Linked DNA regions of Homo sapiens: all the other regions are linked to region 1. Evidence: fine-mapped QTL for protein levels in blood plasma. A gene starts in region 1. Each other region holds a variant in brackets. All regions are shown on one strand. Distances are between the middles of the regions.

Region 1 (8,106 bases):
GGCTGTGAAAGAGTGCTTTCTTGCGGGTCAGCCCCGACAGGACAGACTTAAGGGCGGGAGGGAGCCCATCCCGCTTGCCCCAACGAACGCGGGCGCGGGGCTTTCCTCGCAGGTTACATAAGGCAGCCGCGGGTGGAGGCAGCAGAGGCGAGCGCACGTCCGTCGAGGGGGAAAGGGGCGTGGGGAGGCGGCCGGGGCGGCCGGTATCCCCCGGGCGTGAGTGCGCAGCGCGCGGGGGAGCGCAGGGCGCGGCGGAGTCGGGTTTCAGAGCGCGGGTGACTCGGGGCGCGGGCCGGGAGCCGGGATTCTGCCCGCCGCCGCCGCTGCCGAGCGCCGCCTTTGTTCCCTGCAGGAAGGGCGAGCGCGGCGGCCAGCGCTCAGCGACCCTTCGTCCTCCGCTAAGCTCCAACGCTCTGCTCGACTAGCCGCGCGCCTTCCGGGGCTCCGCAGACCCGCGAGATGGCACCAAGGTAAGACCCGCTTCTCTGCTTCCTCGCGTCCCGGGCCCCTCCAATACTCTTGCCCGCCTCACCTTTTCTCCCTCGGGCACATCTTGCAGGAGGAACAACGGGCAGTGCTGGTGTCTGCTGATGCTGCTCTCGGTCTCCACGCCCCTCCCTGCTGTCACCCAGACCCGCGGTGCGACAGGTAAGCAACCCGGTCGGAGGGTGGCACCGGCTGCCTCCGCGCCCGTGGGGGAAGTCGGTTTTGGCGGCGGACGCGGCTGCGATGCGTGCCTCATTCCTGGACATAAAAGGGAGTCTTGCCACTCAGTGCGCACTGGCGGTCCCGCGGGCGGCTACCTCCTGGCAGTGCAGGGGTTATAGCTGTGAATGGGATCCCTGGGCAGCTGGGGCGGTTGGAGCGTTGTCTGGGCACCCGAGATGTCTGAGCTGGGTGCGGAGCCTCCAATCTTAGGCAGAGAGGGACTTCAGAAACAGCGCCAGCGCCAGCGCCAACAGCCTCAGCGCACCCAGCGCCAGCAGCTTAGGTTGTGCGTGCTGGCTGGCTTCTGGTAAGGGCAGGTCTGGTGCCTCTCCGCACACAGGTGCGAAGCATGAACACCGGGAGGGACATCTGGGGCTTTTGCTGCTCAAGAAATAACGGAACTGAATTGCTCGGTTGCTTAACCCAGCTCTGAGTTACCTAAGCGGTCACGTCTATCATGGGCAGTGGCTCCACCGGTGGTGGAAAGAGCTGTGGCCTGGAAGCCAGAGATCTGATCCCTTCCGTTCCCCGGGCCTCAGTTTCTCCAGCAGAACTCAGGCGGTTGGCTGAATAGTAAGATATAAGTTAAAGTAGACCTAAGTTAAAATGGGCCTCGGTTAAGGTCAGACTGCCTGGGTTTGAACTGTGGCTGGCTGAGTGATCTTGGGCAATGGATTTCATCGCTCTGTGCCTCAGTTTCCCCATCTGAAAAAGGCGATTAATTAGACCATTTTACCTTCCTAGAAATGTTGTGAATATTAGAGAAATTAGAAATAATGTGCTTCCCATGATTCCAGTATATACTAGGCACAAAATAAGTGATAGAAATTACTGCTTGATTCTTGCAGTAACTATGTGTTGGAAAGCAATGCAAGTATTTTTATTTTTATTTTAGATTCAGGGAGTGGTCATGTGTGGTTTTTTACAAGGGTATATTGCACGGTGCTGAGGTTTGGGCTTCTATTAATCCCATCGCAATGCAGGTATTTTTATAACATTGAGGTTGAGAGAAGCTTAGAAAGTGGCCAGTCCAAAAGCCAGGACTTGAATCCAGGTCTGTAGGCTCTTGCCCTTGCTCAGCTCTTTCTCCATGCAGTTTTGCAGAAGAGCCATGCTTTCTATAGCTTCTGACCCCCTCCCCTTTGAATTTGGGGGATTAGTACACATCTTCAATTGAATAAGGGAACAGAAAGTCTAGGAAACAACCTCTAGTCGGCCCAAAGGAAACGGGATTGAGAAGGTGGCCTTGGTTAACTCTTTGTTTGCCTGAAGAAGCCCAAGACAGCCCATTGTCTCCTGGGCAACAAGACCCAAATCCGATGATAGCTTTTCCTGCCAGAGTGTCCAGCCTGGCATTTATTGCAGATCAAAGGGCAGCTGGAGTATAGTTTTAGCTTCTCAGCCCCATGGCTCATGTCAGAAAGTTGCAATTTTGCATATGATATAGGGCCCTGCCAACTCAGTGGCAGAGGCCAACTTTGGGTTCCATGGTCTTTTGTGAACTTTGCTGCAACTTCCAGTTTCCCAAAAGGAAGATGGATCTGGGGATAGGAACTTTGGTGTTTCTTTCTCCTCCTGTGTGTGTCTCTGGGATCCCTCAGTGTCAGGGCTGTTGTTTCTAACACAAAGGAAGCCCTATTCCCATTTATAATGTAAAAAGGGAGGGCCAGCAAACCTTCAGGAGCTGAGAACGGTCTAAGGAGGGCCATTTGCAACTGATGGGTTTTCAGTGCCCCTTTGGGGATGTGAAACGATTCCTAAAAATGTAAACTATCCTCCTGCAAACTGCATTTGTAATGCAATTTAATATCCCTAATACTTATAAAACACTTTGTATATCCAGGTGGAGGTGTGAACATGTTCATATTTCATTCATCCAATCCTTACAACCACTCCAGGAGGTGAGGACTGAGAACAGTTACTATCTCTGTTTTTCAGATGAAGAAACAGAGGTCCAAAGTCACAAGACTTCTAAGTGGCTGGGGTGGGATTTGAACCAGACAGTCTGACTCCAGAGTCCTTGCTCTTAACCATCCTAGTGTGTAGTTAGAAGAGCTTCACGGATGGAGAAGGCTTTAGGGGTTCCATGGTCTCCAATGAGCCCCACAATCTGAATGTCACAATTGTAACATGAGTCCATTGCATGGCATTGTGCAGTCTTCAAAGCACAATGTCACCTTCACCACGTCCCTGGAATCACCACCCAGCAGTGCTGAGAAGTAAATTGGGCTCTGTCTTACAGAGGGGATGTGACTTCCTCAAGGCCGCATGACTGTAACTGGGTAGATCCATAATAGCCCTCTCACGTCTGTGAACTTCTGGGCTGGTGCTGTTCCTTCCATAGGACCACTGCCCAACTGGCTATAAAAAACAATTGCCAAGACTTCATAGCACTATGAACCAGCAGTGTTTTAAGTGCCCTGCCATGAATGAGCTCAGTCAATCATCACAACAACCCCATGTCTTATCCCCTTTTACAGATGAGGAAACTGAGGCACAGTCTTTTGCCCAAGGGCATGTAGCCTTCAGTAATATAAGCACAATTTGAGCCCAGAGGGTCTGACTCCAGAATCTGTACTTGTAACCACTATGCTGTATGCTTAAGTGGGGTGGCTTCTGAAAGCATGTTTGTAAGTGGGCTGTTATGAGCGGAAATACATGTTCCCAACGATTTGGCAGTTTCTTAAAATGTTAAATATATACTTACCCTACAATCTAGAACTTCCACTCCTAAGTATCTACTTAAGGGAAAGGAAAGCATATGGCCACCCAAAAACTCATATGTATGTTCATAGCAGCATTATTTATAATGACCAAAACTGGAAATAAAGTTAAATTCACCATTAGCTGGTGAATAGATAAACAAATGAGGTGTATCCATTTAATGGAATACTACTCAGCAATAAAAAGGAATGAAGTATTGATCAATGCTACAACAACATGGATAAACCTTAATACCATTAAGCTAAGTAAAAGAAGCCAGACATTAAAAAGCAATACATTGTAAGAGTCCCTATATATGAGATTTCTGTAAAGGCAGAACCACAGAGACAGAAAACAGAAGCAGAGATTGACTGCAAAGGGGCATGAGGAAACTTTTTGGGGAGTGTTCTAAAACTGGATTGTGGTGGTAGTTGTGCAACTCTATAAATTTACTAAAATAATCTAACTATACATTTAAAATGGGTGAATTTTATGGAATGTAAGCTATGCCTCAATAAAGCTGCTTCTTAAATAAAAGAATGTATTTTCCCAGAGCATCTAGGCCCCAGATCTGGTGGGGCTTCAAGGTGGGGTTCCTAGCCAGCCTGGTACAGAGCTGGCACACAGCTCACAACTTAAAAGCTGCTGGCCTCTTAGGGCATTGATTCTCTCAGAAAATGGGTCCAGAGTTCTGCCTGCACCTCCAGGTCTCTGGATCGACTCTCCCTACTATCCCTGAATGCCATTGTGGGCCCAGGACAGGGCTCCTCAGGTAGGGGTAGAACACATGCATATGGGTTTTTTGCAGGTAGTTGATCTGTTAAAAAGTGGGTCTTTGTAAACTTCCTGATATCCTGCACGCCCTAAAACAGCACAAGTTCAGGTATTGGAAAACCTGGGTTCCACTCACTGACTTCCTCCATGAACTTAGATGAGTTGCTTTTCCCACTCTGAGCCTGTTTTCCCATCTACGAAGTGGAGAGGCAAGAGTCACTCATCTCTGTAGTCCTAATTTAAAATGTTGGGAAACAAAACAAAATAATATTTTTCTAGTTTGAGGTTTGATTATTTCACATAGTTTAGTTCAACAAACCCATTCTGTGCTGGCCCTCATGCTGGCTGGGTACAGAAAGGATTTGGGCACAGAGCTGCCCCAAAGGGGTCATAGTTCACAGGAAGAAAGAAAGGGCCACAGACAACTGTAATGCCATTTTTCCTGAAGTCTTCTCATCTACCATGCAGAATGTCCTGTGTGCAGCCAATCCCATCCTTCTACACCATCCTGTTTAAAGACACACTTGTCGGCCGGGCGCGGTGGCTCACACCTGTAATCCCAGCACTTTGGGAGGCTGGGGCGGGCAGATCATTAGGTCAGGAGATTGAGACCATCCTAGCTAACACGGTGAAACCCTGTCTCTACTAAAAATACAAAAAATTAGCCAGGCATGGTGGCGGGCGCCTGTAGTCCCAGCTACTTGGGAGGCTGAGGCAGGAGAATAGCTTGAACCTGGGAGGCGGAGGTTGCAGTGAGCCAAGATCGCGCCACTGCACTCCAGCCTGGCAACAGAGGGAGACTCTGTCTCAAAAAAAAAAAAAAAAAAAAAGAGACACTTGTCAGTGGGTGTCACCCACATGGCCTCTTGTACCTCCAATGGTCAGGGTTGAGCTGGAGGACAACACCAATCCTTCCTTTTCCTGGTAAAGTTTCAGGGTCATTGGAATACCCAATATTTTAGAAGATAAGGGGGCTATTGTCCAGGTAGGGATGGTGGTGTCACAAGTAATTTGCTCTTGCTAATAAAGTGTTGATGATTGCAAATTATTTGCTTATGTTTAAACTGTTTTATTGTGAAATACAACATCCATTCAGAAAAGTGCATGCTAAAGGTACAGTACAATCTTGTATCACAGAGCAAACATGTAATCCAGATGAAGATATAGGATAATCCCCAGAAGGTCTCCTAAACCCCTTTGCTGTGGTTTTATTTTCCCTTCTTTCTCTCTGAGGTAACCATTACCTTGACATTAACAGTCATCCCTTTCTTGCTTTTTAAAAATAGCTTTACTATCTAAGTGTGTATCCCAAAATTCTGAAGTTCTGTTTTACTCGATTTTGAACTTTTTAAATGCAGAATCTATTCTTTCATGTCTGATTCTTTCAATGAATAATAAGTTTTTGAGATTTATTCATGCTGCTGTATGTGGCTGTAGTTCATTGCCATTGCTGTATAATAGTCCATTGCATTAGCATAGCATATGTTACTTATCCATTCTTCTCCAACATTTGGGTTGTTTCCATTTTGGGCTAATGTAATAGTGTCGCTCTGAACATTCTTGTACATTTCTCTCAGTGCACATGTGCATGAATTTCTGTTGGTTCTATACCTACGAGTGGAGTGCTGAATCAGAGTGTGCATATCCCCCAACTGAGTAGACAATGCCAGCATGTCTTCTAAATGGTTGTACAGATCCACACAGCTACCAAGAAATGAGGGCCTCCATTTCTTCACATCCTCACCAGCACTTGATCTTGTCACTGAGCTTAACTTCAGCATTTCTAATGGGTGCATATTTGATCTTACTGTAGCCTTAATTTCCATTTTCCTAATTATTAATTACCTTTTCATATGTTTATTGACCATTTAGATATCCAGACTTACTTTTTATTGAGGTGAAATTTACATTATATAACAGTAACCATTTTGAAGTGCACAATTCAGTGTCATTTAGTTCCTTCACAATATTGTGCAATCAACATCTCTATCAAGTTCCAAAACATTTTCATCACCCCAAAAGAAATATCTATGCCCATTAATCAATTGCTCCCCATTCCCTCATTTTCTCAGCTTCAGGCAGTCACTAAACTACTTTCTGCCTCTATGGACTTGCCTATTCTAGATATTTCATGAAAATGGAATCATACAGTGTATGACCTATTGTGTCTGACTTCTTCCATTTAACATAAAGTTTTCATGGTTCACTCATGTTGTATCATGTGTCAGTACTTCATGCCTTTTTATGACTGAGTAATATTCCAGTGTATGTATATACCAAATTTTGTTTTTCCATTCATTTGTTGATGGACATTTGGGTTATTTCTACCTTTTGTTTTTTGTGAATAGTGCTGCTCTGAACATTTGCATACAAGTATTCGGATGCTTGACGGCCTGTTTCTACTTCTTTGCACCTAGGAGCAGAATTTCTGGTCATATGATAATTCTGTGTTTCAAGTATGACGAACCCCCAAACTGTTTTCCACAGTGGCTGCACCATGTTTACATCCCCACCAGCAATGTATGAGGGCTTTAATTATGCACATCATCGCCAATGCTTGTTTTCAGTTTTTAAAATTATAGCCATTTTAGTGGATATAAAATGGCATCTCATTGTGGTTTTTATTTGCAATTCTTTCTTTCTTTCTTTTTTCTTTCTCCTTCCTTCCCTCCTTCCTTCCCTCCCTCCCTTCCCTCCTTCCTTCCCTCCCTCCCTTCCTTCCTTCCTTCCCTTCCCTTCCTTCCTTCCCTTCCCTTCCCTTCCCCTTCCTTCCTTCCTTCCTTCCTTCCTTCCTTCCTTCCTTCCTCCCTCCCTCCCTCTCTCTCTTCCTTTCTTTCTTTCTTTTGACAGAGTCTCACTCTGTCACCCAGGCTGGAGTTGGTGGCCGGCCCATCTTGGCTCACTGCAACCTCCACCTCCCAGGTTCAAGCAATTCTCCTGCCTTAGCCTCCCGAGTAGCTGAGACTACAGGCATGCCCAGCTCATTTCTGTATTTTTAGTAGAGATACAGTTTCACCATATTGGTCATGTTGGTCTCGAACTCCTGACCTCATGATCCACCCACCTCGGCCTCCCAAAGTGCTGGGATTACAGGCGTGAGCCACTGTGCCTGGCCTATTTGCAATTTTCTAATGACAAATGACGTTGCGCATTTTTTCAAGTGCTTCTTGGCCACCATCTTCTCTGGAGAAATCCTGATTTAATGGGAAGCATATGAATCAGAGCAGCGCAGAACTTCCCTCTAACCACCCCACTCTTGCTCCCTGGCAGTCTGATTTGCTTTTCTGAGTGAGAGAGATGTGGGTAGGAGTCACACCTGAAGTTTTGCCTCATTGACCTGCAGTCTCCATCTCCCAAAGGACAATTGTCTAGAGCTGGCCACTTTGTCCAGAGCTGGACTTTAGCAATTTGTCATTATTATAAATAGTGCTGCTGGGACATCTTCAGACAAATGGCCTTTTTCTTTTGGATTATTTCCTTTGGCAATATTTCCCCCCAAAGAACTCACCCATCAAAGAACAGAACTGGTTGGACAGTTCTTACTATGTATTTAGATGGATTTTTCTTATTTAATCATGATGCTTCCTAGTATAATTGCCCTCACTGGGTTCTCACTGTACCTGAGATGGAGTCATGCTCCTGGCCCCAGAGGACCCTGCCTTCCTCCACTAACACTAAGTCCCTATGGACTTCAGCTCACATCAAATCACTGGCAGGCTTCTGAATGGGACATGCAACGTCCCACACCTGTGCTTTTGCATAGGCTAGTGCCATTTTTATTCTATTATTATTTTTTGGGACAGGGTCTTCTCTGTTGCCCAGGCTGTAGTGCAGTGGTACAATCTTAGCTCATTGAAGCCTCAAAGTCCTGGGCTCAAGGGATCCTCCTTCCTCAGCCTCCTGAGTAGCTGGATTACATAC
Region 2 (8,106 bases), 130 kb after region 1:
CCCATGGCGTCCGCCTTGTGGATAACTACTGTGAAGCATGGCGAACCGCGGACACAGCGGTCACGGGACTTGCCTCCCCGCTGAGCACGGGGAAGATTCTGGACCAGAAAGCATACAGCTGTGCTAATCGGCTAATTGTCCTATGTATCGAAAACAGTTTCATGACAGACGCTAGGAAGTAATGGCCTTCTGATGATTCTTAAAGAGTTTTCAATTTTTTCTTATGTGAAGAGTTGACACTGAAATCTAAAATGTTTAATTGTTGTAAATATTACAGTTTTTTTTTTTTACTACATATTCTTTACAACAGCAACCAAAGAAAACATACCTCAATACACTCAAAACTGAAGACATAGAGGACTCAGATCAAAGACAAAATCTGATCCATATATTGGTGCTAGATTCTGCAGGAAACCCCAGCAGTGTGAACGCATCCCAACATAGGTTAAGAGCAAGTTGAAAACAAAGGCCATGGCATTCTGCCACTGCATCCTTCAGACAGTTATATCCTCCTTTTAAACCATTGTTGTTGAGTGTAAGATGTCCTTCATGTTTTCTTATAAAGTCAGTGTTTAGAAATGTTACCCTTTCTAAGTTATATACAGATCAAATGCTTTTTTCTTTCACGTACATCCATCATTTGCAACTGCTGTTCGTACACAGAAACAGGACTGCTCAAATGATCCTATTTGTATTTTCTGATGCTATCAGACTCTAATGTTTTTTTCCCTAAAATATTATTGCCATCATGCTTTAGGAATTTTATATTTTTACACAATCATATTTTAGTATGGTGTCTGTTTATGTAACTCTGACTTGCTGGAAAAGTTGAAACTCCAAATAATCTGAAACTAGAAAAGAAATAGCACATAATTACTACCTTCCCCTTGGCGGCTCTCCTCCCCAACCCCCACCCCACAATTTTATGACTTCCATTTGGCAATTGTTGAATTATAACTGCGACTGAAACAAACAGGTTCATAGAGATGAATTTTCTGAGAAACATATATCTACATGTTGTATAATTGGATTTTTTTTCCATGTAAGTGAACATAAAAACATCTTTTCCGGGTGCTTTCTTCATTTGACTTTTTCCCGCTAGTTCCTTTATTCTCCATCACTGATGTGGAAGCAGACCTGGGGTGGGTTTGCTAATCCTGCCACTTGTGCTGCCCCCAGGCGATGATCAGAGAACTGAAACGTTTTCCCATCATGCTCATCTGCCCTGGCTGTTGTCTTCCACCTAGTGGGGCCAGTGTAGGTTGTGTAGAGCCTCAGAGTGGGAAACAGGATGAGCTGTGATTCTGCCACCGTCTCAGGGCATGACTTTGGGCAAGTCGGCCTCTGTCTCTCAAGGAGATTGGGATAAGACAAGCATAGTATTGGCTACCAGTCATTAAATATCAGACTTCTGATATATCCCATTTCATTTTCATAATAACCCTGCAAAGTAGTTTTTTAATCTCTACTTTACAATGCAAAAAAAAAAAAAAAGTCAAAGCTCAGGGAGTTACTTGTTCCAGATCATACACTGGTGAATGGCAGGGCTGGTTTCAGACTCAGGGTCTGCCTCACGTCGGGGCCTATGATCTTCCCAAGGAACCCCTATGCAAGCCTGCCTCTCTGCTCCCTCCCAGCTGCAAGCATGTGATTCTCTGGCTCTTGGTCTGACCCTCTAGGAGAAACATAATCACCAGGCAAGAAGTATGCTGGGATATTTCCTCCCATTCAGCTGGGCTGGCCCAGAAGCTCAGCAAAGTGAATCCGCCCTCAGAATCCTTGAAGTAGGAAGGAAATCAAAGAGGAAAAACAAAGAAAAAAAGGCAGCCCAGAATCTCCATGTAGGGGCTGCATAAATACATGAGTGGTGAGAATCTTCCTAATGAGTCACAGAATGAAGACTGTTTGAGGCTGGAAAGCCCGAGAGGTGGTTTTTGAGGACCAGCCCATCCGTTGAGTGATGAGGGCTGGGGGTGCTTGGTATGGACAGGAACTGCAAGGGGAAGGCGGGCAGGAGGCTACCAAGGCCACGAAGCGCAGACACCGTCCATTTCTGTCACAGCCCACCTGGCCCAGAGTTACAGAAGAGGCAATGTGAGTTGGGGTTTTGGGGAGGAGCCCAAAGTCAGGGAGACCTCATTTGCTAACCCTGGAAAGAGTATTGAGGCTTATGGCATTGCCATTCAGGCCTCTCCATGCACCAGAGGAGGTATAACCGGCTGACCCAGAAGGAGGCCCTGAGTCAGCCCCAGCCCCATTTAGACTTGGAGAATGAGTGTCAAAATCCTGGACCTGACATTCACTAAACACCAGCCCTTGCCCAAGCTTTCCCGTCACATGTTGAAAACCGTCACCCTGGTATCCTCAAGGTCACTCAGACAAGCCACAGAGGCTCCTCTGCAGGCTGTGTCATCGGAGCCCCACCCCATCTCAGGAAAGCCTTAAACACTCCGGGCCTAGCCTGGCCCTTCTGCCAACGGCCAGCACATCTGTGATATCCCCCAGCTCCCAAACCTGCCTGCCTTTCCTCATACTTCCTCCTCTGAACACCTGACATGTGTAGCATCCGAGTCTTGTTACACAGTTGAAACACAATGGCGGAAGGGCCTCTAAGCCTTCACTCTATCCCATGCCTGGATGTCTCAAATGTGCCTGAATGCTGAGCCAATTAACAGTCTCAGGCATGATAAGGGAGGGAAGAATTGTCACGAGTAATTCATCTTTATCGTGCTAGAGGTCTTTTGGAGACTTGCTGTGAGTCCATACTGCACACCCTCAGGGTCTGAAGCCTGCAGCAGCCAAAGCCCCTACCCAGCAACAGAACCAGAGGGATAGAAACAGCTGCCAGCCCATGTCAGGGGCCAGGCTCCATAAGGTGGCAGACTCTGGAGGGTGCACAGGAGCAGAGGGTCTGAGCAGGTATGTGGGGAGAGCATGAAGGAGGTGGTCCAGGAGAATCCCCCTGGCAACCTGGACGTGGCCACATAGAGTAGACCGAAGAAAAACCCAGGGAACAAGGAGAATGGGCTGCAGGAGCCATCCTTGCATTTCCCGTCTCCTCCTGGACTTCATGTGGCTAGCATGGTGTCTCTTGAACCTGTAAAGGGTGTAAGTCAGAGACAGCGTGGAATTCTGGGAACCATCAGCAATCCAGTACAGCTGAATAGCAGTCAAGACACTTTCTATTAGTCCATAAAGGGAACACAACTCAAATTCACAAGTTTTTTTGTTTGTTTGTTTTTTTTAAAGAAATGTATTGGCTCATGAAACCAGGTAGGACGGGGATGCAGAGACTCAAGCAACGTGGCATGACAATGTGGTCACTCACTCTGTTCTCTCTCTCGGTGTGTGTATGTGT[G/C]TGTGTGTGTGTGTGTGTGTGTGTGTGTGTGTGTGTAAGACTATGTCTATCTGTCTTGCTTCTCTTTTTCTGTGAATATGGCTCCTTCCATCCAAGTGAGGACAAGATTCATGCGGCAGAGATGTCTGCAAACAGCTCTAGGCTTATGTTATTCCACCACCCCAGAGAGTGGCTCCAGAGGAAAGAGAAGACTTCCTCTCCCACTGGGATGATACGAATTCCTGGAAAGGACTCTGATTGGTTCCAACTGTATCACAGGCCCATGACTGTGTTTGGCAGCCCCCACCCCAGAAATGAGTTGGGCAGAAGGAATAATTCCTCCATCCAAAATGCATGGGGATTTGCAATGACCTGAAAATGAGGGATAGAAGGTTGACAGGGCCAACAAAATAGATTCTACCACACACAGCAGCAGGGAAGATCAAGTGTGGGGGACGTTGCAGTGAAATAATAGACAGAGGTGAGATCATGCTGGCCTTGAAATCCAGGATGAGGCATTTAGACTTTATCCTGCAACTGACGTAGTAGTTAAGAAGAAAGTACTTAGGCAGATAGTGAGGGTACAGGAATCCTCAGTAAGGTTTTCCTTTTAATGAAAAGCAGCCCCAAAATCAAGTTCTTTCTCTTCTTCTTCTTCTTCTTTTTTTTTTTTTTTTGAGATGGAGTCTCACTCTGTCACCAGGCTGGAGTGCAGTGGCACAATCTCAGCTCACTGCAACCTCCGCCTCCCAGGTTCAAGCGATTCTCCTGCCTCAGCCTCCTGAGTGGCTGGGACTACAGGAGCATGCCACCATGCCCAGGTAATTTTTGTATTTTTAGTAGAGACAGGGTTTCATCATGTTGGCCAGGATGGTCTCGATCTCCTGACCTCATGATCCGCCCGCCTTGGCCTCCCAAAGTGTTGGGATTACAGGTGTGAGCCACCACACCCAGGCAATCATGTTCTTTTCTAACAAAGAGCAGCCTGTAAAATTGAGCTGCAGACATAGACAAGCAAGCTGGAAGCTTGCACAGGTGAATGCTGGCACTTGTGTCAATAGGAGAAGGCTACCTGGGACTAGGCATGATCAAAATGATGGCTCCATGTTCCCTTCTCTTTGCCAGCCACGTGTACAGTAAGGAGCAGACAAGATGGCGCTGGCCAAGTGGAAGGCCCATTTGCAGAATAAGATTAGGGTGGGGTGACCAGCCTTCCCCAAGTGCTATGTAAACGTCGCATCTGGTCAAACCAATCTGTGGGCCCTACTTAAGTCAGACACCGCCTCCTCAAGCCTGCATGCATATAAAATCTGCTGCAGGTTTTCCGTTTCAGTCACCTCTTCCTCATGAGAGGGAAGGCTGCTCTCCTCTCACCTTCCTATTGCCTATTAAACTTTCCGTTCTTTGACCCACTCACATGTGTCCCTGTCCTTAAACTTCTTGGTGCAAGATGACAAACTCCGAGACAATGTTGCTGCTTCACAACTGGTAGGGCACCTTGGGAATATTTAAATGAGGTAAGAGATGGTATTGGATCCATGTTTGAGAAAGATCAAGCAGGTTTTTTGTTTATTTGTGCACTCATTCAGAAATATTTCTTGAATAATAATTTGTACCCAGGATCATGTTTGGACTTGGGAGTACAAAGATAAATGATGCCCCCACTTTTCAAATCTACTAAGTCCATTCTAATGCCACAGACTGTTTCAAATCTCCTGTATATTTCCTGCCACCTGCTCTCCACCTCCTCAGAAACCCTACCAGTGGGGGACAAGCACATGCATGCAGTCCTTGTCTATCCTAACAGCTGGAGAAGTACTTTTCTGGTTACCCCTTGAGCTCCTGGTCCATCAAAACACCACTGAGCCTCCTCAAACCTCTTTGATAGCCACTAACTGATTTTCTCCTTTTGCTTTCCATCTTGTACTCCAATTTATAGGGCCGGTAAATAGAGAGATGCCTTGGTCTGTGTCTGAATTTTGGTCCTGCCACCTACTAACCATGTAATCATAGCCAAGCTACTGAAAAACTCCAAGTTACTGAAAATAGTCCTCCACACTCAGTCCTTCCCTGCAGCTCAGTTTCTTCATCTGTAAAAGGGGGACATTCATGGAAACTACTCTCCTTTCAGTTAATTTACAGGAAGCACTGGGAACAGCATTCTGGCCCCGTGTAAGCGTCCAATCAGTGTTTGCTATCTTTGGCCTGTTCCAGTTGTCTCTCAGTAGGAGCTGGGGGAAGGTCTCTCCTTCAACCATCCTAGCTGGTGTCTTCCAATCTGCCTGGCTTCTCTGCCTGTCTTCAGGCACAGGGCTGGGACTCAATGTATACATAGCAGTACAGCTCTGCCTGCTGTTGGTAAATATCCGTTGTCCCACGACCCCGAATGTCTGGACTATCCTGGCCCTCTGCTCCTGCCCTTCATAATCCAACAAGTAAAATGTTATCATCTGGCTCATTAGCGGCTGCTGACAAGAGGGCTGAATTCCTTCTGATAGACAGGCACACATGCCACAGCGACTGTTTAGTCATCTCATCATCCCCCTGCATGAGCCTGCTGGGGGCCCTGAGTTCCAAGAAGGACCCAGAGCACCCTGTTATCTGATATGTTTGTGGGAGGAAATTGCCTCCCTCTCCTCTCCTTCCAAACTTGTGCCTTTTCCTCTGGTCCTTCTCTTAGTGAGTGGCTCCACCATCCAGCCAGGAGCCTAGGAATCTTTTATTTATTCAACGATATTGACTAAGTGTCTCCTTAGTAATAAAAATAACAACAATAAACCATAAAATAAGTGCTAGGAAGCTCTGCAGAGTTGGGATATTTTTATGATGACTACTTTGATTTTTTTTTTTTTTTTTTTTTGAGACAGGATCTCACTCTTTAACCCAGGGTAGAATACAGTGGTGTGATCATGGCTCATTGCAGCCTTAATTCCTGGGCTCAAGTGATTCTCCCACCTCAGCCTCCTGAGTAGCTAGGACTACAGGTGTGTGCCACCAGGCCTGGCTAATTTTTAGTACATATACATATATATATATATGCATATGTACTAATATATGTATGTTTAGTACATATATATGTTTGTAGAGACAAGGTCTTGCAATGTTGCTCAGGCTGGTCTTGAACTCCTGGCCTCACAAAATTCTCCTGCCTCGGCCTTTCAAAGCGTTGCACGTGGTGGTCTTCCCTTGAGGCAATGTGGTGCTGGCTCTTTTCTTATCTTCCCTAGGACTGTTGCTCACATCTCCTGGCCTCTACAGTTCCATCTCCTCCAGTTCATTCTCCACACCAGGGGAGAGAGCTTTCTAGAAAGCCTGTCATACTTAGTGTTTTGATTTGAGTTTCCCTTTAGAGGAGGATTCATTAATTTCTCTGCAAGGCGATCCCAAGAAACAAGGTAAGAGAGCAGAGAAATGAGACAGGGATGGGAAGGAAGATTTTAAAGGGTGCATCTAGTTCTCACTGTGAGTGACTAGATCACACTGTCCTCTTAAGGGTTCTGGGAGCCCGTGCAGTCTGGCACCTCAGAGTTTCCAACCAAAGGGACAAGGATGTTATGGTCTTCATACACCAACCCCTCTCAGTCTTTGAAAAACAGGAGGGCGAGGCACTGGATGAGATTCCAGTACTTCTGGCCTGCTGCACACGACAGAGTGGGCTCAGCTGCCACAGAATGCTCTCAGGCAGACACGTGGATGCTGGCAGTGGGAACTTGGGGGTTTATGGGCGGGGCACCCCAGAGACTGCAGTATCAGGCCCAATCTAGCAGGAAGTCACACAAGGTTTACTTCAAGATAACACTTTGAGCTTACAATACTTTCCTCAAACCTTACTGAAATGATAAAAACAACAGAGAAAAAACAAAAAACAAACAAAAAAAGACCTGCAACCCCTTGTTAAAAAAGGAAGAACTATCTCAACCTGGCAGAAACTTTGAGGACTTTCTGGAAGATAGAAACCTGCTATGATTGGCTATCCTATAACCACAGCAGCAAAGGCAGGGCCTGTCTTCGAGTCCCTCCTGAGGCTGATAGCCACAGGAAAGTGCCAGTAGAGGCTGAAACAGAAATAAGCTGGGAAAAGGCTGGGGGGAAGCTCATAGAGACTTGTGCAGTTGCTGACAGCACCCAGAAGACCTATCAGTCCTTTCAATGTGGGCTTTCATATTTATGAACATCAGTACAGAACAACAAACACCAATTAATCATTTGAGGAGATCTAGCAGCCTCCAAAAGGGAATCAACAGTTAATCAGAGCCAATGGCTTCTGTTTCGAAAGAATGATTACAGAAAACAGGAGATAACTTTTAAAGATTCAAATTTGTATTTTCATCCAACTCCACTGGAAACAAGGAAAAGAAAGCAAATTGGTATTCTCAGTAAAATTTCAGAGAGTAAAAGAAGCATGAAATGAAATACTGGGAGAATAAGAAACAGTCCTTGAAAATAAAAGAACGACTGTATCACCAGAATAAAATAGAACTACAGCATATATGCTACTGAAACCTGATTTAATGAATTGTTAGATCAAAAGAATTAATATAATTGCTCAAAGGACACAGACAAAAAGATAAATTCATGAAATAAAAGATGAGGGAAGGAGATAGACATAATGTTTCAATATTTATATAACAGGAGTCACAGAATAAAAGAGAATATTAGATGGAAGAGAAGTACCAGTGAACAAAAGAAGTTTGGTGCGGTGGCTGGAGCCTGTAGTCCCAGCTACTTGGGAGGCTGAGGCAGGAGGATCTCTTAAGCCTGGAAGTTCA
Region 3 (8,106 bases), 600 kb after region 1:
AGGTATCCTCACATGGTGGAGGGGTTGAAGAATAAAAACAGTCAGGCAGCTCTCCGAAGGCACATTCATGAGGACAGAGCTCTCATAACTTAGTCATTTCCCAAAAGGCCCCATATCTTAATACTATTGCATTAGGGATTAAGTTTCAACATGAATTTTGGAAGGAAACAAACATTCAAATCATAGCATTCTGCCCCTTCCTGCTTCAAAAAATTCATGTCCTTCTCACAAATAAAACACATTCATTCCAACCAAATAGCCCCAAAAGTCTTAACTTATTTCAGCATCAACTTTAAAGTCGAAGTCCAAACTCTTCTAAATCTGATATGGGTGCAACTCAAGACACAATTCATCCTGAGGCAAATTCCCCTCCAGCTGTGAGCCTGTGAAATCAACCAAGTTATATGCTTCTAAAATACACGGTGGAATGGCATAGAATAGACATTCCCATTGCAAAAGGGACAAACAGGGAAGAAGAAACAGGTAGCAAGTCCCAAGAAAGTCCAAAATCCAACAAGACAAACAATATTAAATCTTAAGGCTGGAGAATAATTTTCTTTGACTCCATATTCCATCTTCCAGACACACTGGGGCAGGGGTTGGGCTCTGAAAGCTTCAAGCAACCCTGCCCCTGTAGCTTTGCTGGGAGCAGTCCCTGCCTCAGCTCTCCCAGTCTGTAATTGCATGCTGGCAGCTCTAAGTCTGGAGTCTCAGGGGTAGCCCTACCCCATGGCTCCAGTAGACATTGCCCTAATGGAGACTCTGTGGTGCTCCTGTCCTCACAGCTCCTACATTCTGTGTGCCTGCAGAGTTTGCACCACATGAACACCACCAAGGTTTACAGCCTGTGCCCTTCTTGGGGTAGGGTGGGGATGTGATGGCACATCATACTGCACCATTGCAGCCATATCTGGGCTGGCTGAAGACCCCTGTGCTGGAATGCATGGAAAGAAACATGAGGCATCCTTGGACAGTGAGCCCTTAGGTCCCATGGGCATCCTCAGTCCTTCCCTTGAAACTGACCTCAAATCCCTGGCCCTCTGGGCCTATGATAAGAATGCCAGCCTTAAAGATTTCTAAAATGCCTTCAGGGTCATTCTTCTTTATTTTGATGAACAGCACCTGGCTTCCTTCTAGCCATATTAATCTTCTTAACAAAAGGGTCTCTTGGCTGCACCCTTGATATTCTCTTTTGAAAGCACTTTTTCTTTCTTCTTTAAAAAATGTTAAATGCTACTTTAATTATGTCAATTTCCTACTCCAAAACCTTCAGTGACTTCCTATTGCCTTTTTGTAAAGCAAGGTTTAAGGGAAATGGTATACTTATCTGTTACTGAATCTTATTTATTGATTAATATTATTTCTCTTCTTTTTTAATTTCTAATTTTTGTGGTTACATAGTATGTGTACATATTTATGGGGCACATGAGATATTTTGATACAGGTATACAATGAATAATAATCATATCAGGGTAAGTGGGGCATCCATCACCTCAAGCGTAACCTTTGTGTTACAAACAATCCAATTATATACTCTTTAAGTTATTTTAAAATACAACTATTATTGACTATAGCCATCCTGTTGTGCTATCAAATGCTAGAACTTATCTATTCTTTCTATTTTGTTTTTGGACTCATTGAGCAGCCCCACTTTCCCCCCACTCCTCCACTACCCTTCCCAGCCTCTGGTAACCATTATTCTACTATCTTCATGAGTTCAATTGTTTTAATTTTTAGCTCCCACAAATAAGTCAAAACATACAAAGTTCGCCTTTCTGTGCCTGGCTCATTTCACTTAACATAATGACCTCCACTTCCATTCATGTTGCTGCAAATGACAGTATCTCATTCTTTTTTATGGCTGAATAGTACTCCATTGTGAATATGTACCAAATTTTCTTCATCCATTCATCTGCTGATAGACACTCAGGATGCTTCCAAATCTTGGCTATTGTGAATAGTCCTGCAATAAACATAGTAGTGCCGATACCACTTTGATATTTACTAATTCCCTTTTTTGTGGGTATATACCTAGCAGTGGGATTGCTGGATTGTATAGTAGTTTTATTTTTAGTTTTTTGAGGAAGCTCCAAACTGTTCTGAATAGCGGTTGTACTAATTTACATTCCTACTAACAGTGTATGCGGATTCCCTTTTCTCCACATTCTCAGCAGCATTTGTTATTACCCATCTTTTGGATAAAAGCCATTTCAACTGGGGTAAGATGATATCTCATTGTAGTTCAGATTTACATTTCTCTGATGATCAATGATGTTGAGCACCTTTTTGTGTATCTGTTTGCCATTTGTATGTTTTTATTTGAGACGTGTCTATACAGATCTTTTGCCCATTTTCAATCAGATTATTCGACTTTTTTCCTATAGAGTTGTTTGAGCTCCTTATATACTCTGATTATTAATCCCTTGTCAGATGGGTAATTTGCAAATATTTTCTCCCATTCTATGGGTTGTCTCTTCACTTTGTTGATTGTTTTCTTTGCTGTGCAGAAGCTTTTTAACTTGAGGCAATCCCATTTGTCCATTTTTGCTTTGGTTGCCTGTGCTTGTGGGGTATTACTCAAGAAATCTTTACCCAGACCATTTTCCTGGAGGTCTCCCCAAAGTTTTCTTTTAGTGGTTTCATAGTTTGAGGACTTAGATTTAAGTATTTAATCCATTTTGATTTGATTCTTTATATAGCAAGAGATAGTCTAGTTTCATTCTTCTGCATATGGATACACAGTTTTTTCAGCACCATTTCTTAAAGAAACTGTCCTTTCCTCGATGCATTTTCTTAGCACCTTTGTTGGAAATGAGTTCACTGTAGATGAACGGATTTATTTTTCAGTTCTCTATTCTGTTCCATTAGTCTATGTGTCTATTTTTATGACAGTAGCATGACATTTTGGTTGTTATAGCTCTGTAATATAATTTGAAGTCATACAACATAATTCCTCCAATTTTGTTCTTTTTACTCAGGATAGCTTTGGCTATTCTGGGTCTTTTGTGGCCAAAAAAACTTTAGGATTGTTTTTTTTCCATTTTTGTGAAGGATGTCATTGATATTTTGATAGGAACTACTTTGAATCTATAGATTGCTTTAGGTAGTTTGGATATTTTAACAATATTGACCCTTCTAATCTATGAACATGGTATATTTTTCCATTTTATTATGTCCTCTTCAATTTCTCTCATCAATATATTTTATAGTTTTCATTGTAGAAATCCTTCCCTTCTTTGATTAATTGCTAAGTATTTTATTTTATTTGTAACTATGGTAACTGGGATTAATTTCTTGATTTCTTTTTCAGATTACCCACTGTTGGCATATAGAAATG[C/T]TATTGATTTTTGTACGTTGATTTTGTATTCTGCAACTTTACTGAATTTGTTTATCATTTCTAATAGCATTTTGGTGGAGTCATTAGTTTTTTCCAAATACAAGATCATAACATCTGCAAACAAGAATAATTTGACTTCTTCCTTTCCAGTTTGGATGCCCTTTATTTCTTTCTCTTGTCTGATTGCTCGATCTAGGACTTACAGTACTATATTGAATAACTGGTGAAAGTGGGTATCTTTGTCTTGTCCCAGATCTCAGAGGAAAGGCTTTCAGTTTTTCCCCATTCAGTATAATTCTAGCTGTGGGTCTGTCACATATGGCTTTTATTATGATGAGGTATGTTCCTTTTATTACCCTGTTTTTTAGGGTTTTTATCATGAGGGGATGTTAAAATTTATCAAATGCTTTCTCAGCATCAATTGAAATGATCATATGGGTTTTGTCCTTCATTCTGTTGATAAGATGTATCACACTGATTGACTTGCATATGTTGAATCATCCTTGCATCCCTGGGATAAATCCCATTTGGTTATGATGAATGATCTTTCTAATGAATTGTTGAATTTTGTTTGCTAGTATTTTGTTGAGGATTTTTGCATCAGTGTTCATCCAGGGATATTGGCCCGTAGTTTTCTTTTCTTTTTTTAATGTGTCTTCATCTAGCTTTAGTATCAGTGTAATATCAGCCTTGTAGAATACATTTTTGGAAGTATTTCCTCCTCCTCTATTTTTCAGAATAGTGTGAATGAATCAGTATTAGTTCTTCTGTAAATGTTTGGTAAAATTCAACAGTGAAATAATCATGTCCTGGGCTTTCTTTGCTGGGAGACATTTTATTACAGCTTTGCTCTCATTACTTGTTATTGGTCTATTCAGGTTTTAGATTTGTTCATAGTTCAATCTTGGTAGGAATTTATCCATTTCTTCTAGGTTTTCCAATTTATTGGCATACAGTTGCTCACAGCAGCCTCTAATAATCCTTTGAATTTCTGTGGTATTTGTTGTAATGTCTTCTTTTTCATCTCTGCATCTCTGATCTTATTGATTTGGGTCTTTTTTTTTTTCTTAGTCCGGCTAAAGGTTTGTTGATTTTGTTTATCTTTTCAAAAAACAACTTTTCATTTTGTCAATCTTTTATATTGTTTTATTCATTTTAATTTTATTTTTGCTCCTATTTTTATTATTTCATTTCTTTGACTAATTTTGAGTTTGGTTTGCTCTTGCTTTTCCAGTTCTTTAAGACGTATCATTGGGTTGTTTATTTGAAGTTTTCTATTTTTTTGATGTAGGCATTTATACCTATAAGCTTCCCTCTTAGTAATACTTTCACTGTATCCCATAGGTTTTGGTATGTTGTGTTTCCATTATCATTTGTTTCAAGAATTTTTTAAATTTCTTAATTAATTTAGTCATTGACCAACTTGTCATTCAGAAGCATGTTGTTTCATTTCCATGTGTTTATGTAGTTTGTAAAATTCCTCTTTTTATTAATTTCTAGTTTTATTCCATTGTGATCAGAGAAGATACTTGATATTATTTCAAATCTTTAAAAATGTTTTAAGGCTTGTTTTGTGGCTTAATACATGGCCTATACTTGAGAAAGATCCATGTGCTGAGTAAAAGTATGTGTATTTAGTAGCCATTGGATGAAATGTTCTATAAATATCTACTAGGTCCATTTGGTCTATGGTGCAGATTAAGTTCATTGTTTCTTTGTTGATTTTCTCTCTGGATGATCTGTCCAGTGCTGAAAGTGGGGTGTTGAAGCCTCTAGCTATTATTGTATTCAGGGTCTATCTACTTAGCTCTAATAATATTTGCTTTATCTAGCTGAGTGCTCCAGTTTTGGGCACATATATATTTACAATTGTTTCATCTTCTTGCTAAATTTACCTGTTTATCATTGTATAATGACCTTCTTTGTTTCTCTTTATAGTTTTTGTCTTGAAATTAATTTTGTCTGATACAGTATAGCTACTCTTGCTCATTTTTTGTTTCTTTTGGCATAGAATACCTTTTTCCATCCCTTTATTTTCAGTCTATGTGTGCCTTTATAGGTGAAGCATATTTCTTGTAGGCAACAGATCATTGGGTCTTGTTTTTTATTCATTAAGCCACTGCATGTCTTTTAATTGGAGAGTTTAGTCCATTTACATTCAATATTATTATTAATAAGTAAGGACTTACTCCTGCCATTTTGTGACTTGTTTTCTGGTTGTTTTGTGGTCTTTTTTTCCTTCCTTCCTGTCTTCCTTTTAGTGAAGGTGATTTTCCCTGGTGGGATGATTTAATTTCTTGCTTTTTATTTTTCATGTATCCATTGTATGTTTCTTCATGTGGCTTGCAAATGATTTCTTATAACGCATTATTTTAAACTGATGACAACTTAACACTGATTGCATAAATAAACAAAGAGAAAACTCTACACTTTAATTTTCTCCCCCCATTTTTTAACTTTTTGTTGCTTCTATTTATATTTTATTGTACTGGATATGTCTTGAAAAGTTGTTGTAGTTACTATTTTGATCCAGTTCATCGTTTCATCTTTCTACCTAGGATATGAGTAGCTTGCACAACACAATTAGTGTTATAACATTCTCTGCTTTTCTGTGTACTTACTATTACCAGTGAGTTTTGTACCTTCAGATGATTTCTTATTCCTCATTAACTTTTCCTTTCAGATTGAAGAACTCCTTTTAGCATTTCGTGTAGGACAGGTCTGGTGTTGATGAAATCCCTCGGGTTTGGTTTATCTGGAAAAGTATTTCTCCCTCATGTTTGAAGGATATTTTCACCAGATACACCACTCTAGCATAAGATTTTTTTTTTCCTTCAGCACTTCAAATATGCCATGCCACTGTCTCCAGGCCTGTAAGGTTTCCACTGAAAAGTCTGCTGCCAAATATATTGGAGTTCCATGGTATGTTATTTGTTTCTTCTTTCTTGCTGCTTTTAGGATCCTCTCTTTATCCTTGACCTTTGGGAGTTTAATTATTAAAATGATTTGAGATATTCTTCTTTAGGTTAAAACTGCTTGGTATTCTATAATCTTATAGAACTTCAATATTGATATCTTTCTTCTCTTGAGAGGTTCTCTGTTATTATCCCTTTGAATAAACTTTCTACCCCAATCTGTCTCTCTACCTTCTTTTTAAGGTCAATAACTCTTAGATTTTGAGACTTTTGAGACTATATTCTAGATCTTGTAAGCATACTTCATTCTTTTTTATTCTTTTTTCTTTTGTGTCCTCTGACCGTATGTTTTCAAATAGCCTGTCTTCAAGCTCACTGATTCTTTCTTCTGCAGAATAAATTCTTCTATCAGGAAACTCTGATACATTCTTCAGTTTATCAATTGCATTTTTCAACTCCAGAATTTCTGCCAGATTCTCTTTATTTCAATCTTTTTGTTAAATTTATCTGATAGTATTTTAAATTCTTTCTCTGTGTTATCTTAGATTTCATTGAGTTTCCTCAAAACAGTTGTTTGAAATTATTTGTCTGAAAGGTCACATATCTCTTTCTCTCTGAGATTGGACCCTGATGTCTTATTCAGTTCATTTGTTCAGGTCATGTTTTCCAAATATTCTTAATGCTCATGGATGTTTATTGGTGTCTGGCATTGAAGAATTAGGTGTCCTCACATGGTGAAATAGTGGAACAGCAAAAGACTAGGCAGCTCTCATTAATCTCATTCATGAAGGTGGAACCCTCATGACTTCATCACTTCCCAAAAGGCCCCATCTTATAATAGTATTACATTAGAGGAATATGAATTTTGGAGGGACACAAACATTCAAACCATAGCACACACTGATATAAGAATGCTTATGTAGATTTTTTAATAAATATGATGTTTTGTTGAAATTTGTACAGGATTCATAACATGAAAGATGTTTTTTATCTATATCTTTCTGCACATTCTATATAATAAAATATTTTCATAGTACTTTATAATTTACAAGGAATATTTATATGTTTTCTCATTTGATCTTTAGTTTTTTCTTGAAAAACAAAAGAATCTTTATAGATAAGGAAGCATGGCTCAGACAGGTAAGGTGACTTATGTATGTCTTAGAACAATGCATGGAAGAAAAAGGATTTGAATTCTAGTATAATTCCAAGTCCAAAGTGTTTCCAAGCACCTTCTAGATATCCGGCACTAGGAAGGGCAAGAGGAATAGAAAATTGAATGAGATATCAAGAAGCATACAATGTGGTGGGAAGATAAACAGAGAAGACAGTGTAAAGTAATTTGACAGAGGAATATACAGGATGTTATGGAAGCTCTGAGGAAAGGCTCAAATATCAGCTAAGAAACATGAGGAGGGCTTATAAACTGAGTCTTAAAGAATGACTGAGATTGAGCCACATAAAAGATAGAGAAAAATGGTGATGAATTACAGACAAGGGAAGAACATGAGCAAATATCTGTAGTCAGTCCTGCCTGGTTGGGGTGGTGGGGAATGTGAACTCCATGGAGTTCCTTGTTGCCAAAGCAGAAAGAGTCAAGTAGGAGGATTGATTGATGAGACAAAGACATCTACAGATATTAGATCATGGAAGCCCTTATATGTGAAGAGCCTAGACATGTTTCTATAGATACCATTCAATTATTTAAATCCTTTAAGAATGAGCTTGGTGTAGTCAGATTTGTATTTTATTAGATTATACTGACTATCCTATAAGGATAGACTGAAAGTAAACAGGAATGAAAGAAGGGAGACTTGTGTGAACGTCATTACAGCAATCCAGGAGAGGGAGAGA
Region 4 (8,106 bases), 67 kb before region 1:
CATACCAGGCACCAAGGCTGGTGTGTGATGAATGTGGAACCCCTGGACCCTTTGCAGATGGGGTTCTGGAGATACTCCAGCCTCAGCAAGGGGAGGAGCATATGCTCCAAGCTTGCCAAGTGGGTGGTTCCTGCGGTTGGATTTTGGGGCACACTCTGCTCTGGGGAGTGGAGCTCACAGAGCCATTTTCAGTCCCGGTAAGCCCCCAGTTTCCTTCTGCCACTCTGAGCTCTCTTTACCTATTCTTCATCATCGGGACACTTGTGCGTCTACACTGGCAGTCATGGGATTTTTTTTTTTTTTTTTTTTTTGAGACAGAGTCTCACTCTGTCATCCAGGCTGGAGTGCACTGGTGCTATCTTGGCTCACTGCAACCTCTGCCTCCCAGGTGCAAGTGATTCTCCTGGCTCAGCCTCTCGAGTAGCTAGGATTACAGGTGCATGCCACCACACCTGGCTAATTTTTGTATTTTTTTTTTTACTAGAGATGGGGTTTCACCATGTTAGCCAGGCTAGTCTCGAACTCCTGGCTTCAAGTGATCCATCCACCTCTGCCTCCCAAAGTGCTAGGATTATAAGCATGAGCCATGGCGACCGGCCTGGTCATGGGATTTTAAAGCAGGCAGGGGCCCTGGAAGGACCCAGTGGGCCAGTCCATTGACCCTGGTTTGAGTCACAAACTCCTTGGAGAGCCTCAAGGGAGCCATGGCCCCTGTCACTAGGAGAGCACACCTGTGTGCACACACACATAGACACACCTGACCATTCTCAGCTGCAGGAGCCTCCAGGTGCAAGATTCTGCCTTAGAAGGCTCTACAGCACCTCCGCCCTTGGTGCACACCCTGGGGGATGAGTTCTTACTTTCTGCCGTGCCTGCCCGGGGCTTCGGTGCACCACCCCAGTTACCTCTTTTTATTGGAGCCGACTCTGCCTCCCAGTGGCTTCTTTCCATGGGTCATTGTTCTGCTCCTCAGAGCCACCTGGAATGAGGTCACCATGTCCTCTCTGTGACACAGATGAGAAGCTAAGGATCTACATCCCCTGGAGTTCGCCCCTCTCCATGGTGTTCAGCTGTGGCTCTTTCTTCGCAGGGCGGGCATCCAGACCCTTCCCAGCCTGTCTTGGCCCCAGGCCCATTCCTGTTTCTCATTGTTCTCATTAAGGGCTGGCCCCCAAAACACAGAATTCCAGGTGCAGTCTGGCCAGCCCAAGGAGAGCAGATCGCTCATCCCGTTTGTTCTGGATGTTGGCCCCCATTAATGTAGCTCTGGAGACAAACATAACACAGCAGATACACTGAGCTGGGGGTCAACTCAGACTCCCAGATTGTCTCCCTGTAAACAGCTGTGCAGTCACATCTCCCCTTTCCTCTTTGTAGTATTTGTGAGGTTTTAGATGGAAATCCCAGTTTATACCAGATATTTGGTTTTCAATCATGCTCCTTTACTGCTCATAGTGCCCTCAGCCAAAGGCATTTCCACCCTGAGCTTCAGTTTCCTCACAGATTTGTTGGGATGGTGAAATGTATAAGGTCAATGTTGGGGCTTGGAAGGGTATTCTCTTTCTGTGTGTTGTTGTTTTGGAAAAGATTTCTGGTTGTTTCCAAAATCCATTTCATCCCTTTTACATGGAAATAAAACTTTCACCTTGGTGTGCAGATGCTCAGCATGAGACCATAATTCCCAGCCTGTCTTGCGCTACATGGAAGGACTGGGCAAGCAGCGTGCAATAGTCTCTGCTTATCCACACTTCCCACAGTTTCTGTTACCCAAAGTCCAGAACGGTAAGTGATTTGGGGAGAGAGAGAGAGAGAGAGAGAGAGAGAGAGCGAGAGAGAGAGAGGGAAGTCACGTTCACATATTTTTTTATTACTGTGTATTATTATAATTGTTCTATTTTATTAGTTACATTGCTAGTCTTTCACGGTGCCTCATTTATAAATTAAACTTTATCATAGGTATGTATGTATAGGAAAAACATAGTGTATATAGGTTTGGTACTATCTGCAGTTTCAGGCATTCACTGGGGGTCTTGGAACGCATCCCCCACAGATAAGAGGGACTCTTGTACTCAATTTCCAGTTGTGCCTTTGAAGAGAGGAGTGTGTCCTCTTTCGTTACCTGCTCCGTGGATGGAGCATAGATGTGTGGGGCGCTATCTGGGATACCTGGATGAGTACAGCCCCTTGGGATGGCAGAGCAATAAGACAGAAGCAGCCTGGGCCCCTGATGACTTCAAAGAGCTGCCTCAGCCTCCTCAGAAAGACTTTCTTTTTTTCTTTTTTTTTTTGAGATGGAGTCTCTTTGTGTCACCCAGGCTGGAGTGCAGTGGTGCAGTCTCAGCTCACTGGAACCTCCGCCTCCCGAGTTCAAGCAATTCTCCTGCCTCAGCCTCCAGAGTAGCTGGGATTACAGGCGCGCATCACCACGCCCGGCTAATTTTTGTATTTTTGGTAGACACGAGGTTTCACCATGTTGGTCAGTCTGCTGTCAAACTCCTGACCTCATGATCCGCCCACCTTGACCTCCCAAAGTGCTAGGATTTCAGGCATGAGCCACCACATCTGGCCAGAAGGACTTTCATGTGAGTGAGAGATGAACTCCTATTCTGCATACGCCGTGTTATATGTGTTGCTCAGCTGAGCCTTGTCACAGCCTAATCAATGAGTTTTTTTGAGGCATTTTATTTAGAAGAGGCAGATACAGGCTCAAATCAATAGGGAAGAAGAGAGGGACTTGCAAATACTCTAAAGCCAATTTTTTTTTTCTTTACTTCTGCTTCTTTCCTTCCCTCCTGCCATTTCTCCCCTCTCCTTCTATCCAAACTTTGAACGCTTATTGAGTTCATTTTCTGTACCAGGCTTTCTGCCAGGCACTGTGGATACAGAGATGATTAAGACACACTGTCTGCTGTAGACTAGCAAGGGAGACAGAGGGCATGTAGACATGCCCTCAAGTCCATGTGACAAGATCACCATGGAGGGGTTTACAGGGTGATGGGTGGACTCAAAGAAGCAGCCACCTCTTTTGCTTGGAAAGGTGGGAGGAAGGGAGTCAGAGGATTACGTCTTGAGTTGATCCATGTGGGCTGCATAGAGGTTCTCCAGAAAGAGAAGAGAGGGAACAGCATTCCAAGCAGAGGAAATAGCTTGTGCAAAGTACTAGAAGTGTGCAGGAGCATTGAGCGCAAAGAGCTGTGGGCTCTTTGTGGTGGGAGTGAGGGGTGGAAGACAGCTGATCAGGGACTTGCTTTGCAGCAAAGTGCCCTGCCAGAAGTCAGCTCCCTTCTGAGGAGTGCTGAGCATGGAAGAAACAACTGCTTTGCAAACAAACACCTCATGTATTTATTTCCTCTGTTTTCCTCACATCTCTCATCTTTTCCCCTGAATGAGATGCCTCCTGGTTTCACTTAATTTCCACAGGAAACTGGAAGGAGCCACATCTGTCTAAATTCTCCCTAACTCACTCCAGATTTTCAGGGTCAGAATATGGCCGCTGAGAGTCAGGGTCTCTGTGGGGTCAGAGGTGACAGCCCCAGAATTGGGGTCTTGTGCCGAGCCCCTTATGGCAGGGGAGGCCAGGCATCAGTTCCCTGCACGATACAGATGTTCAGCAAGGATTTTGTTGGGAGCATAATCAGCGGCCAAGGCAGCCCCTGGAGAGGGGAATGTGGGCCTCATTCCCA[TG/T]GGCTCCTGCCCAACGTTCCTTCGTTCCTGAGTTTTATGTTCCTGGGAGAGGCTGGAGGCCGAGCAATGCTCCAGCTCCACAGCAGCTGCCCCCTTCTCGGAAAGGCAACAACCTCTTTCCTCACATGGCCTTGGGACGTTGGACACCCAGCTCGGGGACATTGTTTTGTTCACAGCTGCATGCTCATGGCATTTATTTAGGGGACACTTTCTCTTCTGCCACCTACAAGGAGGCAGCTTGGAGCAGAAGGAGCAGAGCTGAGCCTCCAGAGATGGAGGTCTGTTCCTGGAGAAAGTGGCTCCCTCTCTTTGAGGCTCAGTTTCCTCATCTGTAAAACAGAGCAGGCTGGCCCAGGTGGCATCTAAGGTGATGTGTGAACAGCTGTGGACTTTGGAGTCATGCAGACTTGTGTTCTGCCTGGGCCAGTTGGCAGCTGCGTGGCCGTGGGGAGGTCCTGAACCTCCCCAGCTGCGGTGTTCTGTCCTCATCTGTGCATGGAGGACATGGGATCAGGTCATCTTGAAGGGCCTCGAGGGCTTAGTGATGAGGCCAGGAGAGCCCACTCTCAACAACGATGCTGAGGAAAAGCATTTTGTGTTCTCCCTCTTGGCAAAATATTTATAATTCTATGCCTGTTGGAACCAAGCAAGGTCAGCACAAAAGAATTGGCCCTCCACTATCCTAAGAAAACTAAAGCAGGAACAGTAGAGCAAATACCACATGCTCTCACTTGTAAGTGGGAGCTAAACATCAAGGACACGTGGCCCCGAGGAGGGGAACAACAGGCACAGGAGCCTACTTGAAGGTAGTGGATGGGAGGAGGGTGAGTTGGGTGCTATGCTCATTGTCTTGGTGGCAAAATAATCTGTACAGCAACCCCCTGTGACACTCAATTTACCTATATAACAAACCTGCATATATACCCCTGACCCTAAAATAAAAGTTAACAAAATAAATAAGTAAAACAAAACATATGGGAGACCGAGGCGGGTGGATCACCTGAGGTCGGGAGTTTGAGACCAGCCTGGCTAACATGGTGAAACCCCATCTCTACTAAAAATACAAAAATTAGTCGGGTGTGGTGGCACGCACCTGTAATCCCAGCTACTTGGGAGGCTGAGGCGGGAGAATTGCTTGAACTCGAGAGGCAAGGTTGCAGTGAACCAAGATCATGCCACTGCACTCCAGCCTGGGCAACGGAGCAAGACTCCATCTCAAAAAAAAATAATTTTTTTAACAAAAGAAGAGGCATCCATGATTTACCCTTCCTCCCACCCCTTGCCCCCAGTCTCCACAGATCAGTGGACTGTTTTTTCCAAAGCATAACTGGATGACTCGTTGGGTTGTCCTCTTCCTGCACCCCACCTTACTGTGTCCTCTCACTCACCCTGACCCCTTTCAGACCCTTCAGCAGTCCAAACTACAGCCTCTTCTGGAGCTTGCATTGTCCAAGGGTGACAAGAAGCAGCCCCAGTGGGTGAGGATGGGAGGGCAGGGTGGGGGTTTAGCTCCTCCAGCATCTTCATGTGCATCTCCCAAACCCTCCATCTCAGAAATTCAGGGTGCTATTGGTGTGTGATGATGTTGAGCCATCCAGGTCCCCCGTTCAAGGTGCTGGCAGTCCCCTGTGCCTGCTGCACTCCCGCCCTCCCCACCCACTGCTCCTGCTGGCTGCCTCCCCTCTTTCAGATCTTGGTGTCCTGTCACTCTCCATCCTGATGCCTTGTCTGTCCCCCATCTCATCTTTCAGAGCCCCGGGTGCTTTTTCTTTGGAGAACTCATCATATTTGTAGTTATACATGGGTCTCGTCCTCTCCCATTTGATGCCTGGCTCTTGCAATGGATTATAAATGCCAGGAGGGCAGAGGCCATGCTGGCCTTACCGTATTCCCATTGCCTCACATAGTGCCTGGGAAATAGTTGGCTCTGGACAAATCGTTGTTGAATGACTGAAGAAATGAATCACCCAGTGAATCTAGAATTTGGTGGCAATGTGAGCGCAACAGGAAGGCAAGTGGCCGCAAATCATGTTGTACTAGTTACAGACTTTGGCACTAACATGGTGGGCACTCAAATCCTAGTGGTGACCCTGGGGACTCCAGGAGGGCAGGCTATTTTCCCTCTCAGCCCCACAGAGGAGAGTATCTCAAGAAAGAGAAGGTGTTCACCTGTGTTGAGATGTTCCTGAAAGGCCAAGGAAGAAAAGGACTGAGGTATGTCTATTGGACTCAGTCACAGGAGGTTATGGTGACCTTGACAAGAACAGTTTTAAAGGACTGGGGAGTCGGAAACCAGACTGCAGGGGAGGGAGCAGGAGTCAAGGAAGTGGGAATTGTGAGTAGAAATTACTCACGGAGACTATTTCTAGACACTAGACCAGGAATGGGAGGAGAGATGTCATTAGCTGTTTCTTACCAAGAAGGATCACATCAAAATTCATTTGGAAAATTTTTGGAATAATAAAAATGATTCATCTACTAGATGGCCAGCAAAATAAGATGCCTCAACCCCTAGTCCTACTTCTCACCAAAAACTAGACTATGAGAATTGAAGGGACCTCAAAGGCCAGAGGATTCCAACACAGCCCTCTCATTCCATAGACGAGGTGCCTGAGGCCCAGAGAGGGTCAGGGATGTGCCCAAGGTCACACAGCAGATGAGGGGGAAAGACAGGTTTTGAAGCAGGCTCCTGTATGCTCAGCCCATGGCTTTTTCCCCATATTCCATGTCTTTCTTTCCCCTGTCCTTTCTAAACAGTCGTTATTGACTCCAGGAAATGGGAAAGATAGTTATTTTTAGTTTATTCAAAATGAGTAAAATGGGTAATGTTTTTTTTCTCCCCAATATATCAGATCCGAAATATGTCTTATGTAAGAGCTAACTGGGATGAGAAATGGTCGCACAGTGAGAACAAAGATTTCTTTGACTATTAAAAGTTCCAGAGTGAACCCTAAACTGGCCCAAATAACTGGGCTCAGCTCTCCTTGCCTAGCTGACAGAAGAAGGTTGGGCAGGGCTGTGTGTGTCTGTACATGTGCAAGTGTGTGTGTACAAGTGAGCACAAGTGTGTGTATAACAGGCTCCCTCTGTGGGGTGATTTCTAGAGCACCAAGACAAGCACCCTGAATCTGAACTTCTTTGATACTATTTATCATCATCATCATCATCATCATCATGAGTAATTCTACTAACATATGTATAAAATTTACCATCTTAATTATTTTAAGAGTATACTTCAGTGTGTTAAGTACACACATGTTGTTTGTTGTGCAACCATTACCACCATCCAGAATTTTCCAGAAAACTTTTTATCTTGCAAAACTGAAACTCTGTACCCATGAAACAACAGCTTCCCATTCCTTCCTCCAAGGCCCTGGAAATCACCATTCTAATTTCTGACTCTATGAATCTGACTTCTCTAGAGACCTCCTGTAAGTGGAATCATATGATGTTTATTCTTGTGTGACTGGCTCGTTTCACTCTCAGGACTTCTTTCAGTGTGTGCTCCTCATGCCCCCAACACCCCATGAGACACCCTCATTTCAATACCTCTTTGAGTGTTTCCTTGTGCCCCCAACTGCCCATGAGACACCCTCCTTTCAGCACCTCTTTGAGTGTGATCCTCGTGCTCCCAACCCTCCATGAGACAACCTCCTTTCAGTACCGCTTTGAATGTGATCCTTGTGTCCCCAATACCCCATGAGACATCCTCTCCTTTGGCAGAGGATTTGATCCTTGGTTGAAGAGTGGCAAGCAACCCTGGGAAGGAAGCATTTCAAGCTTTATTGGAACTTTTTCTTTAGTGCCAGTCAATGGATAATTCCTTGAGAGCAGGTTTTGATAGGGTAGGGGTGACCCTAGTTGAAAGCCCTGATTGATTATGGGTGGGAAGAGGGAGAGACCTGATGACAGAGAAAAAAAATTGTTCTGCCTGGAAAAATGTTGCTGGGATCATTATAAGTGAATCCACGAAATAGCAATTAGTTTTATAACAAGCCACTTCTGACATTTATGTCCCTAGGTGTGTTGACCTCATGTTATGCTCTGACTTGATTCCTTGGGGAGTCATAAATTAAGTGTCCTCAAAGGACTGCTAGCAATAATCATAATAATCCTCTTGTATTTTGGTTGCATTCTACACTTTGGGACACACTTTCATTTATATTATTTTATTTGATCAAAATGACAACAATGTGTGCTCGTTAGAATATGACTTATCATCTTCATTTTTCAGGTGAGGAAGCCGAAGTTCAGTGGGTGGAAGGGACCTGCTCAGGCTTGTACAATCACTTGTTGGTATCACTGGATTGAGAACCCAAGTCTTTAGCCCAGGCCTTTTTCCACTGTTCCACATTTTGCTGGAGTTTTCTCCCCTCTACCTCTCATTTGACCTCAGACTCAATCCTTCTCCAAGAATAACGC

Alleles and levels. Positions count from the first base shown, and alleles are read on the strand shown. Strength reflects both the effect of a copy and how common the allele is.
As copies of C replace G in region 2, the plasma level of the protein whose gene starts at base 305 in region 1 goes down (weak association).
With allele C in place of T in region 3, the plasma level of the protein whose gene starts at base 305 in region 1 is higher (weak association).
For the plasma level of the protein whose gene starts at base 305 in region 1, allele TG in region 4 goes with a lower level than allele T (moderate association).

The links. PIP is the posterior inclusion probability: the model's chance that the variant is causal. Protein levels are from antibody-based Olink assays in UK Biobank. Linkage for the fine-mapping came from a reference panel and not from the study's own genotypes, which makes the PIPs less certain.
Region 2: its variant is fine-mapped to the plasma level of the COL15A1 protein (UK Biobank, PIP 0.97).
Region 3: its variant is fine-mapped to the plasma level of the COL15A1 protein (UK Biobank, PIP above 0.99).
Region 4: its variant is fine-mapped to the plasma level of the COL15A1 protein (UK Biobank, PIP 0.99).

The regions. Positions count from the first base shown.
Region 1 is chr9:98,943,603-98,951,708 of GRCh38, forward strand. COL15A1 (collagen type XV alpha 1 chain) reads left to right here and starts at 305. Exons shown (of 42, transcript NM_001855.5): 1 at 305-470; 2 at 560-648. The coding sequence starts at 460. COL15A1-AS1 (COL15A1 antisense RNA 1) reads right to left here and starts at 1,050. Exons shown (of 1, transcript NR_198999.1): 1 at 1-1,050.
Region 2 is chr9:99,069,705-99,077,810 of GRCh38, forward strand. COL15A1 (collagen type XV alpha 1 chain) reads left to right here. Exons shown (of 42, transcript NM_001855.5): 42 at 1-1,083. The coding sequence ends at 182. Among named protein-coding and RNA genes, the nearest start is that of TGFBR1, 31 kb to the right of the region's middle. RefSeq lists enhancers at 2,034-2,534, 2,535-3,035 and a cis regulatory region at 5,420-6,138. The variant G/C (reference allele first, on the strand shown) is at 3,359.
Region 3 is chr9:99,544,560-99,552,665 of GRCh38, forward strand. No RefSeq gene overlaps it. Among named protein-coding and RNA genes, the nearest start is that of NAMA, 170 kb to the left of the region's middle. The variant C/T (reference allele first, on the strand shown) is at 3,338.
Region 4 is chr9:98,876,397-98,884,502 of GRCh38, forward strand. LOC102724684 (a long non-coding RNA gene) reads right to left here and starts at 937. Exons shown (of 3, transcript XR_930168.2): 1 at 906-937. The variant TG/T (reference allele first, on the strand shown) is at 3,684.